Linked DNA regions of Homo sapiens: regions 1, 2 and 3 are each linked to region 4. The links come from fine-mapping of genetic effects on gene expression. A gene starts in region 4. Each other region holds a variant in brackets. All regions are shown on one strand. Distances are from middle to middle.

Region 1 (2,682 bases), 130 kb before region 4:
CAAGGTTACACAACCAACTGGTGGCGAATTAAAGTACAATGGGCATGACTGATTCTTGCTGAGAAGGACAGTACCCTGGGCTTTGGAGACTTTCTCTCCTTCCCCCCAACTCTGGCAGGTATGGGGTACCAGAAATTGGGTGGGGAGGCCCTTCCTCCCTACCAGACCACATCAAGGCCTTCAGTGAGCACTCAGGCTCCAGGGCTGGGACAGCACAGGGCATAAATGTTTTCAAGAAACAAAGACAGCTCATGATGACTGTACCTCCCATCAGTTTAAGCAACACAGTCAGGACAAACAGAACCACCTGTGGCAGCCGCCAAGTAGGAGAGAACATGGCAGACCCTGGGTAGACAAAGGGGACTGGCTACCGGTGTGGGAAGAGGCTCAGCCTCCCCACTCACATGGGAGACACACACTGAAACCACCTGGGGTTTTTTGGCACACTCCACAGATAGGCCAAAATGAAAGTCATCTGTGGTTCTGAGTCCTGGGAGGGGGTGGGGCAAGGGCTGGTGGGAGGGCATCTGGCCTGGCTCTGCCAAAACACCTGGCAAGGTGTGGAAGCGCTTGGCTGTGGGGACCTGTGTCCTGGCCTCCAACTTCCAGGCATTTGTCCTGGAGACCCCGGCACAGGTGAGAAAGGAGATCAGAGATAGCAGCATTCTTTTTCTAATAGTGGAAAACCAAAAGCCACCTATCCGCTAGGAAGAGGGGAGGTAGACCACCAGGACAACCAGACAGTGGAGTGCTATGCAGCAGTGACCAAGAACAGGAAGTTTGACCACCATCCACAGGCACCAAAGACTGGGCCAGGCCTCACAGAAAGAGACCTGTGTGGTGGGTGTGACGGCTAAGGCCACCATCCACATCTCAGGCTGCTCCATTCAAGCCAGGGCAGGGCCTTGAGCTTATGGAGGCCCCAGCCAGGTGTGAGTTGGAGCTCCTCCTGCTCCGTGCTTCAGTCACATCCTAGCACTGGCCTCTAGGATCCACAGATAAGCCCCAAGGCCTCCATGCAGGCCCATCTCCAGACCTAAGGGTGATTTGTGTGGCATGCCAAGTGTGTGATGATAGCTTTCATCCACCTGTCGGGACCACTCTGCTTACGGGTAGCCCAAGCTGAGTAAGGGGTAGAGTGGCTGGGAGCTGTGCCTGCCTGTGCCCAAAATCTGTGCTCTTCTCAGTGATCTTGGGACCTGGGGGCTGCCCACCTGAGCAGCGGCAGGAGCAGCTTTAGGGGAGACACCACACTCAGGGAGGCCACAGTAGGCCGGCACCTCCCTTCCACTCA[C/T]ACTCAGGCCACCATTGCTGCCTGCCCCACACGGCCTCAGAAGCAGGAGGCAGTACCAGCCTGGCCCTGAGCTCCCTTTGCTTCTTTCAGAGGCTGGAAACTGGGTTGAAACAAGAAAAAACCCTGCCTGCTAAAATAAGCAAACATTTTGGGGAAGGAAGGAGAACCATCTCTGTCTGGTTTGGTTACTATGGGAACGTTTCTGAATCAACTACAAGACAGGGAGAGAAGTTCACCCTGGACAAAGCAGCCTGGCTCTGGCCCATGCAGGCTTGCCTGCCAGAGGTGTGTATGCCTGCGGGGGGAGCCCCAGAAGCTTCTGGGCACCCAGACACAAACCCTCAGCCTCCATGGTGTGGGTAGCCACCCCAGCAGCACCTACCACCTAGCTTGGTGCCTGCTTTCCTGGTCCCCTCTGCTCAGGGAGGACGGTGTGTGGAACAGTGGGACCCAAGACATGCCATCTTCACTCCTCCTCATGTTCAACCACAGTGCTGAGCCCTGCTACACGTCCATCTGTGCTGCTGTGGGGGCCAGCCAGTCATGGGGCAGTTCCCATTTGCAAGGAGTTCCTGTCAGCAAAGCTGACATAGGAACCCAAGGTCCCACTCACTCGATCCTTAGCACCCATCCCATTCTCTGGTCCCTTAAACTCCCCAGGAAGGTTCTGTCAGCAGCCCAGCCTAAGGAGTTCCCCCGAGGGTGCCTCTAATCCTAGCCTTCCTCTCCTGCCCCCTTTCTGGCTGAGCAGCACCCCACCCTGCATGGGAGAGCCCAGCTCCCTGTCCCTCCTACATGCCCTGTAGCACGTTATGAAGGCCCCGCATGGAGACATGCAGGCAGTGCTCTACTGTCAGCCTTGAGCATCCTGTGGCCAGGGCCAAGGCTTTGCCTGACTCCTACAACATCCAGCACTGGCTGATCCAGGAGAATGAGCTTGGAGACCAACTGCTGAGGGGAAAGGGATGAATGAAATTAATCCACAAATATTCATGTGGGCATCTCCTCTGGGCCAGGCCAGGGGACTTAGGAACACAGCAACAGCACAAAGACGCACAAACCAGGAGACTGTGAGAGCAGACACTGGGCCCATACATGTGTCCACCCAAGGAGACTGGGCAGCAGCTGCAGAGAGCAAAATGACCTGACCTTCTCACATGGAAACTTCTCCAAGACTTGGTGTCATGGAAAAAGCAAAGTCGCTAAAAAGCACACACGCACACTTTTTTTTTTTTTTTGACACGGAGTCTTGCTCTGTCGCCCAGGCTGGAGCGCAGTGGTGCAATCTCAGCTCACTACAACCTCCGCCTCCTGAGTTGAAGGGATTCTTCTGCCTCAGCCTCCTGACTAGCTGGGACTACAGGCATGCACCACCACGCCCGGCTAAT
Region 2 (2,682 bases), 200 kb before region 4:
TGGCAGATTTGATGTCCTGTGAGGGCCCATGTCCTCATACATGGCACCTTCTAACTGACATAGTGGAAGAAGCTAGCTAGCTCTCTGGGGTCTCTTTTATTTAATTACTTTAGAGACAGGGTCTCACTCTGTCACCAAGGCTGGAGTACAATGGCGTGATCATAGCTCACTCCTGTACCCAAGAGATCTTCCTGCCTCAGCCTCCTCAGTAGCTGGGACTGTAGGTGCAGCCCACTATGCCTGGCTTCTGGGGTCTCTTTTATAGGGCACTAATCCCATTCATGAGGGCTCTACCCTCATGACCTAACCACATCCCAAAGGCCCCACCTGCTAACGCTATCACATTGGTGATTAGCTTTCAACACGTGAATTTTGGGGGCATAGTGGGTCCACCTGGATGGTCCAGGATAATCTCCCCATCTCAAAAAATTGAATCACATCTTCAAAGTCACTTTTGCCATATAAGGTCTAATCTTGGGTTCTAGGGATTGGGATGTGGATATATTTGGAGGTTGTATGTGGGAGAGGGGCTGGATGGGGCTAATTCCTAATCTGGGCTTGACTGCATGGCTAGAAGAGGTGGTCTGGCAGACTAGGAGGAAGGTCTGGGAGCAAAACATGGCTCACTTTGAGATGAGGGGGCCAAGCCGGCCCACCACTTGGGCAGACCTGCCATCATCACCGACTCTCGTGGGCCGCTGTCAGAATTCAGGCAGATGCGAGACCACCAGCTTCTCCTGCGATCTGGCTTTGGGAGGCAGTGGAAGACAGATCTTTGAAAGCAGCACGGCTGGGTCAGGGGTCCAGGGAGCAGAACTGGTGGGTTTAGAGAGAAGGGAGTCTCTGGAGTGCTTCAGTGTGGTGGGATCCAGAGGCCGAACTCACACCGTCAGGGCCCTCCGTGTGGTAGCCTCCTGCTAGATAGGCTCCCAGGCCATGATCTCAATGGCTTCAGCTGAACTTCACGCCCTGCAGGGTGACAGAGCTTCTCTCCTTGCAGTTTAAACAAAGTCCCAGATCCAGCTCTCAATGGGGCCCCTCTGAGCAGTCTTCATGGGCAGGGGAGGGCTGAGGAGAAGTGGTTGGCTCAGGTCTGTGGGGCCACCTTGAGAGCTGTTGGTAGCAGCCACCTGTCCCAAACCCTGTGGACCAAAAAGGAAAAGGGAACCAAAGGAGGAGAAGGCTGCTAGGCACAAACCTCAGGTGCCCCACGGTGGGAACCTGGCTCTGTGCTCCCAGACCACACCTGCGCCTGGGCCGGGGTGCTGGGAGGCTGCCTGGAGCTTGCTTGGGAAGGCCTGGCCAGTCTCTCCCATCAGTGCCTCCCAGTGGCACCCAAAGAGCATGATAACTTTGTCCCTGTGTGTCGGGGAGAGGAAAAGGGGCTCCTGTTCCCCCCAGCAGGGGTGCAACCCTGGCTCTGTGGTGCCTGATTCTGACTCACCTGCAGAGTGAGGGTGCACTCCCTGGACCCTTGGCCA[C/T]CCTGGGACTGCCACCCACCTGAGAAGGCTCATTCACTACTTGTGAACTGATGGATCTCCATGTCGGCTTTGGCCGAGCTGTTTGGAGTCTCAGACCCACATACCCGAGCAACCACCTCCAGAGCATCTGGACAAGGTGCACAGGCACCTTGGACTCAAAGTGCCAAATGGAAGTCGGCCCTGAGGCAGCTGGAAGCTCTGCGGTGCCTGCCTCGCCTCCCTCCTGCGCTACTCGTAGAACCCCCCTCTTCCCTCCAGCTGTGTGGTTCAGCCCTGACTCCACCTCCTTCTCTCTTTTCCATCTTTTTGCTGCTGGCACCACCACAGTCTACTCCCCACTCCTAATGCAATAAGCTTTGGAAAATGCACATCTGACCCTGCCTGGAGGTAGTGCAGAGACTTCCTTGGTTCCTGAGGCCCTGGAGGAAGCCCATTCCTCTCCCTCCCTGCTCATCCCACCCTGGGAGACTTGCCCAGGCCCTGCCCCTACATCCATTCTGCACCACCAGCAGTGCCAGCCAGTGTGCATTCCCAGCCCAGCCAGAGACTCTTACAGCTGGCTTTTGAAACATCTTGTTACACAGAGGAAATCAATACCAAAAGGGCGACATCTTCAACTAACACTGTAATCAATACAGATCTGACCCTTCAGGATACAGCTAATGCAGGGCTCGGAGGAAAATTCATTTGCTTAAATATTACATAAAAAATAAGAATCAAAATAAATAGGCCAGGTGCGGTGGCTCATGCCTGCAATCCCAGCACTTTGGGAGGCCAAGGCAGGTGGATTACTTGAGGTCAGAAGTTCAAGACCAGCCTGGCTAACATGGTGAAACCCCGTCTCTACTAAAAATACAAAAAAATTAGCCAGGTGTGGTGGCGGGCACCTGTGATCGCAGCTGATTGGGAGGCTGAGGGAGGATAATTGCTTGAACCTGGGAGGCAGAGGTTGCAGTGAGCTGAGATCGTGCCACTGCACTGCAGCCTGGGTGACAGAGCGAGACTCTGTCTCAAAAACAAACAGGCCAGGCGCTGTGGCTCATGCCTGTAACCCCAGCACTTTGGGAGGCCAAGGCAGGCGGATCACGAGGTCAGGAGTTCAAGACCAGCCTGGCCAGCATGGTGAAACCCCATCTCTACTAAAAAAAAAAAATTACCAGGCATGGTGGCGTGTGCCTGTAGTCCCAGGTACTCGGGAGGT
Region 3 (2,682 bases), 60 kb after region 4:
GAGAAGGACGCAGACACGTTCACTGCTCAAGCCCCAGGGCTTAAATGGGGTCTGGCCCTGGTGGATGTTTAGCAAATAGCCACTGAAGCTCGCTGAGTGGTCCCTCGACTCTCCAGGGAAACAGCACTTGCCCCACAGGATTTGTGGGCAAAATGGTAGCACTAAGATGCCTGGTACAGCCGCTCCTCGAAACTTAGCACTCTCCTTTTTTCGGAGGGGAAGGCTGGCGGTGAGGAGGCCCGGAAGCAGACTGGGCCCTGTGGCCTTGTGCAAGTCCCTCCCCTCCTCCAGCCTCAGTTTCCTCACTTGTACAATGCAGGAGGGGACTTCTATAACCCTTGTCAACACTGGGCACCTCTGCCTGCCTCCACCCATTCTTCACCCTGGGGCTGGTGCAGGGCCCACAGTCCATGATCCAAGCCATCAACAGTGAACAGACAGCCGACTGGCCCCACAAGGCCCGGCAGCAGCCCACGGACCGGTTACCTCTCAGCCAAGGTGAAGTCCCCATCCTTCAAGGCCCGGCACCTTCCTCAGGGGGTTCACCTGGGCAAAGGCATCGCTGTGCTGCTGGCCTGCAGGAAAGATCAGAGAGGTGAGTGGGGATAACCCAGAGTTCTCTGAGGTCTCTGCCCACCCCCACCCCAAAATCCCAGCAGCAGCTTTCTGAGGCCCCTATCTGGGAGGCATCAGGGAAGAGGAAGCCTCTCTGCTAGTCACTGGGTCACAGACCTTGACCCCATCAGAGGGCCATCTTTCCTGTGTCCAGCTCCTTGAAGCATGGCTCAAGGACAATTCCCTGGAGCTGTAATTCACACCCCACCCCCAGCCAGTTCCATCCATAGGTCAGACCCCTCCAGCCTCCTCCCTGGGCTCTAGGCTTGCCCCCTCTGATTCAGCTTCCTATCCCAGCTGGGGACTTAGGCCCTACTGGCCAGGCTGGGTGACCTGTCAATACCCCAGAGTCCCAGCCAAACATGTTCCCAACCCTCAGACCAACCTCATTCTTGCTGGGAATCCCTGCCCCATTCAGCTACTTAGCCTCCGGTGGCTCAGCTCTTCTTGCTTTCTTATGCCAAACTCTCAAGGCTCCCTCCCCA[G/C]TGGGGGTTCCCAGGTCTGACTCACTTTAGCACTCTAGGCCAGTGCTAGAGGCCGCATTAGGTGCCTGGTGTTTGGATCAGAGGACCTCAGTCAAGCCAGGCTCCAGTCTGATCATAGGCCTACATGTGGGCCTCTTTGCCCTTCTACTGAATGGACATACACACCCCTGCCCATTCTCCCTCCACAGACTGCTTCTGTGTCCAGCCCCTGTTCTGTAGCAGGTGACTCAAGCTGGTTGTACCAAGGGCAGCAGTTGGGAAGAGTCAGCTGAGCAGGGTCCTCCCTCTGGCCTGCCCAGGGGGCTCTGGCTCTGCTCTCTGCCCTACTGCTTAGTTATAGCCCTGCCTCCTCCACTGAATTGTGCTCCAGCTGCATCTCTGTATGCCAGCCAGACCAGCAAACGCTGGAGCTCAGGGTGAGGGTGCTGGCCTCCCCCACTGCCCTGCCACAGGGCCCTCCAGCCTCTAGCCTCTAGGAGTAGCCCCTTCAGCTGGGTGAGAAGCCCCATGGGATAGAGCAAGTCAGATGCAGGAAAAGGAAAAGGCAGAAGAATGCCAAGAAATACATAAAAGTGGAAGAGACCCAGGGCCAGACATGGTGGTGCATGTCTGTGATCTCAACACTTTAGAAGGAGGAGGCAGGAGGATCACTTGAGCTCAGGAGTTCAAGGTCAGCCTGGTCTACATGGCAAAATCATGCGTCTACACACACCAAAGAAAAAAGTAGCTGGGCACGGGGACGTGCCTGTAGTCCCAACTATTCTACTTAGGAGGAGTAAGTTGGGAGGATCACTTGATCCTGAGAGGTCAAGGCTGCAGTGAGCCGGGATCATGCCACTGCCCTCTAGCCTGGGCTGCAGATTGAGACACTGTAATAAATAAATAAATAAATAAATAAATAAATAAATAAATAAATAAACAAACAAATAATACAAAAGTGGAAGAGACACAGGCAGGGGTAGACAGGGACTATTTTACTTAGGAAACAACGAGGCAGTTTCATTGTTTTTTCCAAGCACATGGGGTGAAGATATTCTTGCCCCACTCCATTTCCCTACCCTCGTTCTGTGCCTGCTGTGCCCTCTCTAAACCTGTATTTTGAAGAATGTTTTGTATTCACAAGCAAAGATCAAGCCTCTATTAAAATAGACAACCAGTGGGGCATGGCGGCTCATGCTTGTAATCCCAACACTTTGGGAGGCCAAGGCAAGAGGATCACTTGAGCCCAGGAGTTCTAGGCCAGCCTCGGAAACACAGCAAGACCTCCTCTCAATAATAATAATAATAATAAATTGGCCAGGCATGTCGGTGGGCACCTGTAGTCCCAGCTACTTGAGGGGCTGAGGCGGGAGGATCGCTTAAGCCTGGAAGGTCGAGGCTGCAGTGAGCCATGATTGTGCCACTGCACTCCAGCCTGAGTGACAGAGTTAGATGCTGTCTCCAAAAAGTAAAAATAATAACATAGATAATTATGTAATAGTTTCCACACCGGAGAGTCTGATTCTTCGTGTTAGTCTGCATTCTTGGCCCAACTGCAAAGCAGCGGGGACAGGCAGGGATCCGCGGCCAATATCCCCTGGGC
Region 4 (2,682 bases):
AAAGAGTAGCACACCTTCAGACCTCAGCACCCTGATCCAGAGTGATAACTGGGGATGTTTCCTGGCCTGGAAGGTGGGAAGCCTATGTCTTAAGCTCAGTGGTGGCAGTGCCCTGGCTGTGTGACTGACTTGACATAGATGTCAGTCTCTCAGTCTGTTTCCCCTCATGTATGAGGCTTTGTACTAGATGAGGGTTCTGCAAGCTAACCAGCCCACCCTTTTTGTACAGCCCACGAGCAAAGAATGGTTTTTACATTTTTTCATATTTGGGAAAAAAAATCATGACACGTGAAAATTATATTAACAATATATAAAATTAAAACTTCGGTCCCTATAATTAAAATTTTATTGCGACGCAGCTAGTCTGTTATGTATTGTCTTTGGCTGTATCCACACTACATCGCTACAGTTAAGTAGACAGAGTATGGACCCCCCAAGCCTAAACTACTATTATGAATACTATTATACTCATTATACTTACAATATAACAATGTAAACACTGATATATTTACAACAAAAGTTTGCCGACCGCTGAACGAGACTGTTCTAAGCATATTCTATTTCTAACCACAATAATCACATAGAAAGAATCTTAGCCACATGGAATCCGACGGTCCCACACTTATAACCTGTAATAACCCAGGTCCTGAAGAGTTAAGTGACTCCCAAAGCCACTTGTGCAGATACCTTGGGAATGCCAGGTGAGTTCCATCTGGCCAGGGCCCGCCTCTTGCGGGGAGGCAGTGAAGCAGAACGGTCAAAATTTTCAGTCTGGAGTCGCGCTCACCCACTGGGTGACTTGGAGCAAATCATTTCACCTACCCGCGGCCTCAGTTTCCACCCCTGTAAATGGCACCAATAACAACACTCACCTCGCAGGGCTGCTGTGAAGGTGAAGCGAAAGGTCGCGAGTAAAGGGTTAGCGCGCTGGGCTTTGCACCCAGCAGACGCCAAATCAATGGTGGCTCCTGCGGTTACTGGGAACCTCCCCGGAGGCCGGAACCCATTCTAGGCACCTCAGGGCGGCGGCGAGAGCCATGAAGAGGCTCGCGAGGCAGCCAGGAAGCCCGGCCTCGGTTTCCCTGACTGGGGCTCTAAAGCTGCCCGCGAAACCCCCAGCTTCCTCACGTAACCCAGCCTCGCGCCTGCAGCCCCTCCGGCCTGTGCCCCGGGCTCTGCTGAGCCTCACCCCCACCCCGGCACCGCCTTCAAACCAGCCTTCCAGGAACTCACCAGGCGTCTCCACAGCAACGGCCAGTCTGTCCCGACCACCGCGCCGTCCGGCTGCGCGCCTGACAACAAGGCGTGCTCCCATTGGCTCCGGTGCCGGTTGTGCCAGCCAATCAGCGGGGGCGCACGCGCCGCTCGCTCTCCGCGGGCTGCTTAGCTGGGGCCCTGCAGACGGCTACCCTTGGGCGGCGCGCGCGCGCGTGCGCGCGTGTGTGCGCGTGTGTGCGCGCGTGCGCGTGTGCGTGTGCGTGTGTGTGTGTGTGTGTGTGTGTGTGTGTGTGTGTGTGTGTGTGTTGCGGGAGTGGAGCTTGTTGTTTCCGGATCCCCGTCGTCAGTCCTAGCGTGCTGGAGGCTTAGAGCACCAGCTCGTAGTCGGACTCTCTTCTCCACAGCTTGCACCCTGAGCAGTCACTAAATGATGGGCTGTGTGTTATTACCTGGGACATGTGCTCTGAAAACAGTGGAAACTTGGGGAACACTTAGAGCGGGGTGTCCAATCTTTTGGTTTCCCTGGGCCACGTTGGAAGAATTGTTTTGGGCCACACATAAAATACACTAACACTAAGGATAGCTGATAAGTTAATAAATAAATAAATAATAAAAATAAAAATCACCAAAAAATCTCAAAATGTTGTAAGAAAGTTTATGAATTTGTGTTGAGCCGCATTCAAAGCCAAGCAGACCAGCGCGTTGGAGAAACTTGACTTAGAGGGAACCAGGGAGGAGGAGCATCCTCATTCATTATATTACCTGTGCCTCTCTTTCCAAAAAGGATGTGAAGCCCAAAAGGAACAGATACAATAGGATATTGAAACAAAAGGAAAAAAAGGAACAAAACCTAGTAAATGAACAAGAAGAGGGGTCATGGGTGGTGTCAGAATTCCAGAGATGAAAAAAGGCGACAGAGTTGAAGGGGTTCTGTCAAGGGTCTTGGGCTGAAAGATGGTACTCTCTTGGGAGCTAGAATAACAATAAAGCATTGTAGGGAAGAACTTTACACTGTGGTTGAATTCATAGCTGCTTGAGTCTTGCACAGATGATTCAAATAGGAGTGAATGTTGGGGGCTTTTTAACCTCAAAGACAGTAACAGCATGGTGAAAAACTCAGTTCAGTACAATAAAGCTATACTGATAAGCTAGAAGTTCTGAAAATTGTTGAGTCACCAACCTTGACTTTGAGTATTGGGGTAAACAGTATTTGGGGGGTAAACAGAAGCATAAACAGATGGTTTCAAAGCTGCATGGATAACCTTCAGCCTCGGATACAGCTTCCACTCAAGCCTTATCATGAAAGATGCGCTGGAGAGAAACAGTTGAAAATAGGTGGGAAGGGTGGTCCAAGCAGCAAGAAAGTTGTGTGGGGAAGGTCCGGAGGTGAGAAACATGCAGATCATGCTGGAGTGTCATGCAGCACAGTGTTACCGTGAGGCAAAGCTCAGGGCCACAGTGGGG

What was found. PIP is the estimated chance that this variant, and not a neighbour inherited with it, causes the effect.
Region 1: its variant is fine-mapped to the expression of CABIN1 in whole blood (TOPMed, PIP above 0.99).
Region 2: its variant is fine-mapped to the expression of CABIN1 in fibroblasts (GTEx, PIP above 0.99).
Region 3: its variant is fine-mapped to the expression of CABIN1 in thyroid (GTEx, PIP 0.97).

The regions. Positions count from the first base shown.
Region 1 is chr22:24,139,416-24,142,097 of GRCh38, reverse strand. All of the region lies in intron 29 of CABIN1 (calcineurin binding protein 1), which reads right to left. Among named protein-coding and RNA genes, the nearest start is that of SUSD2, 41 kb to the left of the region's middle. The variant C/T (reference allele first, on the strand shown) is at 1,295.
Region 2 is chr22:24,213,686-24,216,367 of GRCh38, reverse strand. LOC124905090 (a long non-coding RNA gene) reads right to left here. Exons shown (of 2, transcript XR_007068023.1): 1 at 2,639-2,682; 2 at 1-1,142. Among named protein-coding and RNA genes, the nearest start is that of GGT5, 30 kb to the left of the region's middle. RefSeq lists an enhancer at 2,213-2,682. The variant C/T (reference allele first, on the strand shown) is at 1,482.
Region 3 is chr22:23,950,026-23,952,707 of GRCh38, reverse strand. No RefSeq gene overlaps it. Among named protein-coding and RNA genes, the nearest start is that of GSTT2B, 9.8 kb to the left of the region's middle. RefSeq lists enhancers at 1-358, 359-1,050. The variant G/C (reference allele first, on the strand shown) is at 1,101.
Region 4 is chr22:24,009,919-24,012,600 of GRCh38, reverse strand. CABIN1 (calcineurin binding protein 1) reads right to left here and starts at 1,297. Exons shown (of 37, transcript NM_012295.4): 1 at 1,234-1,297.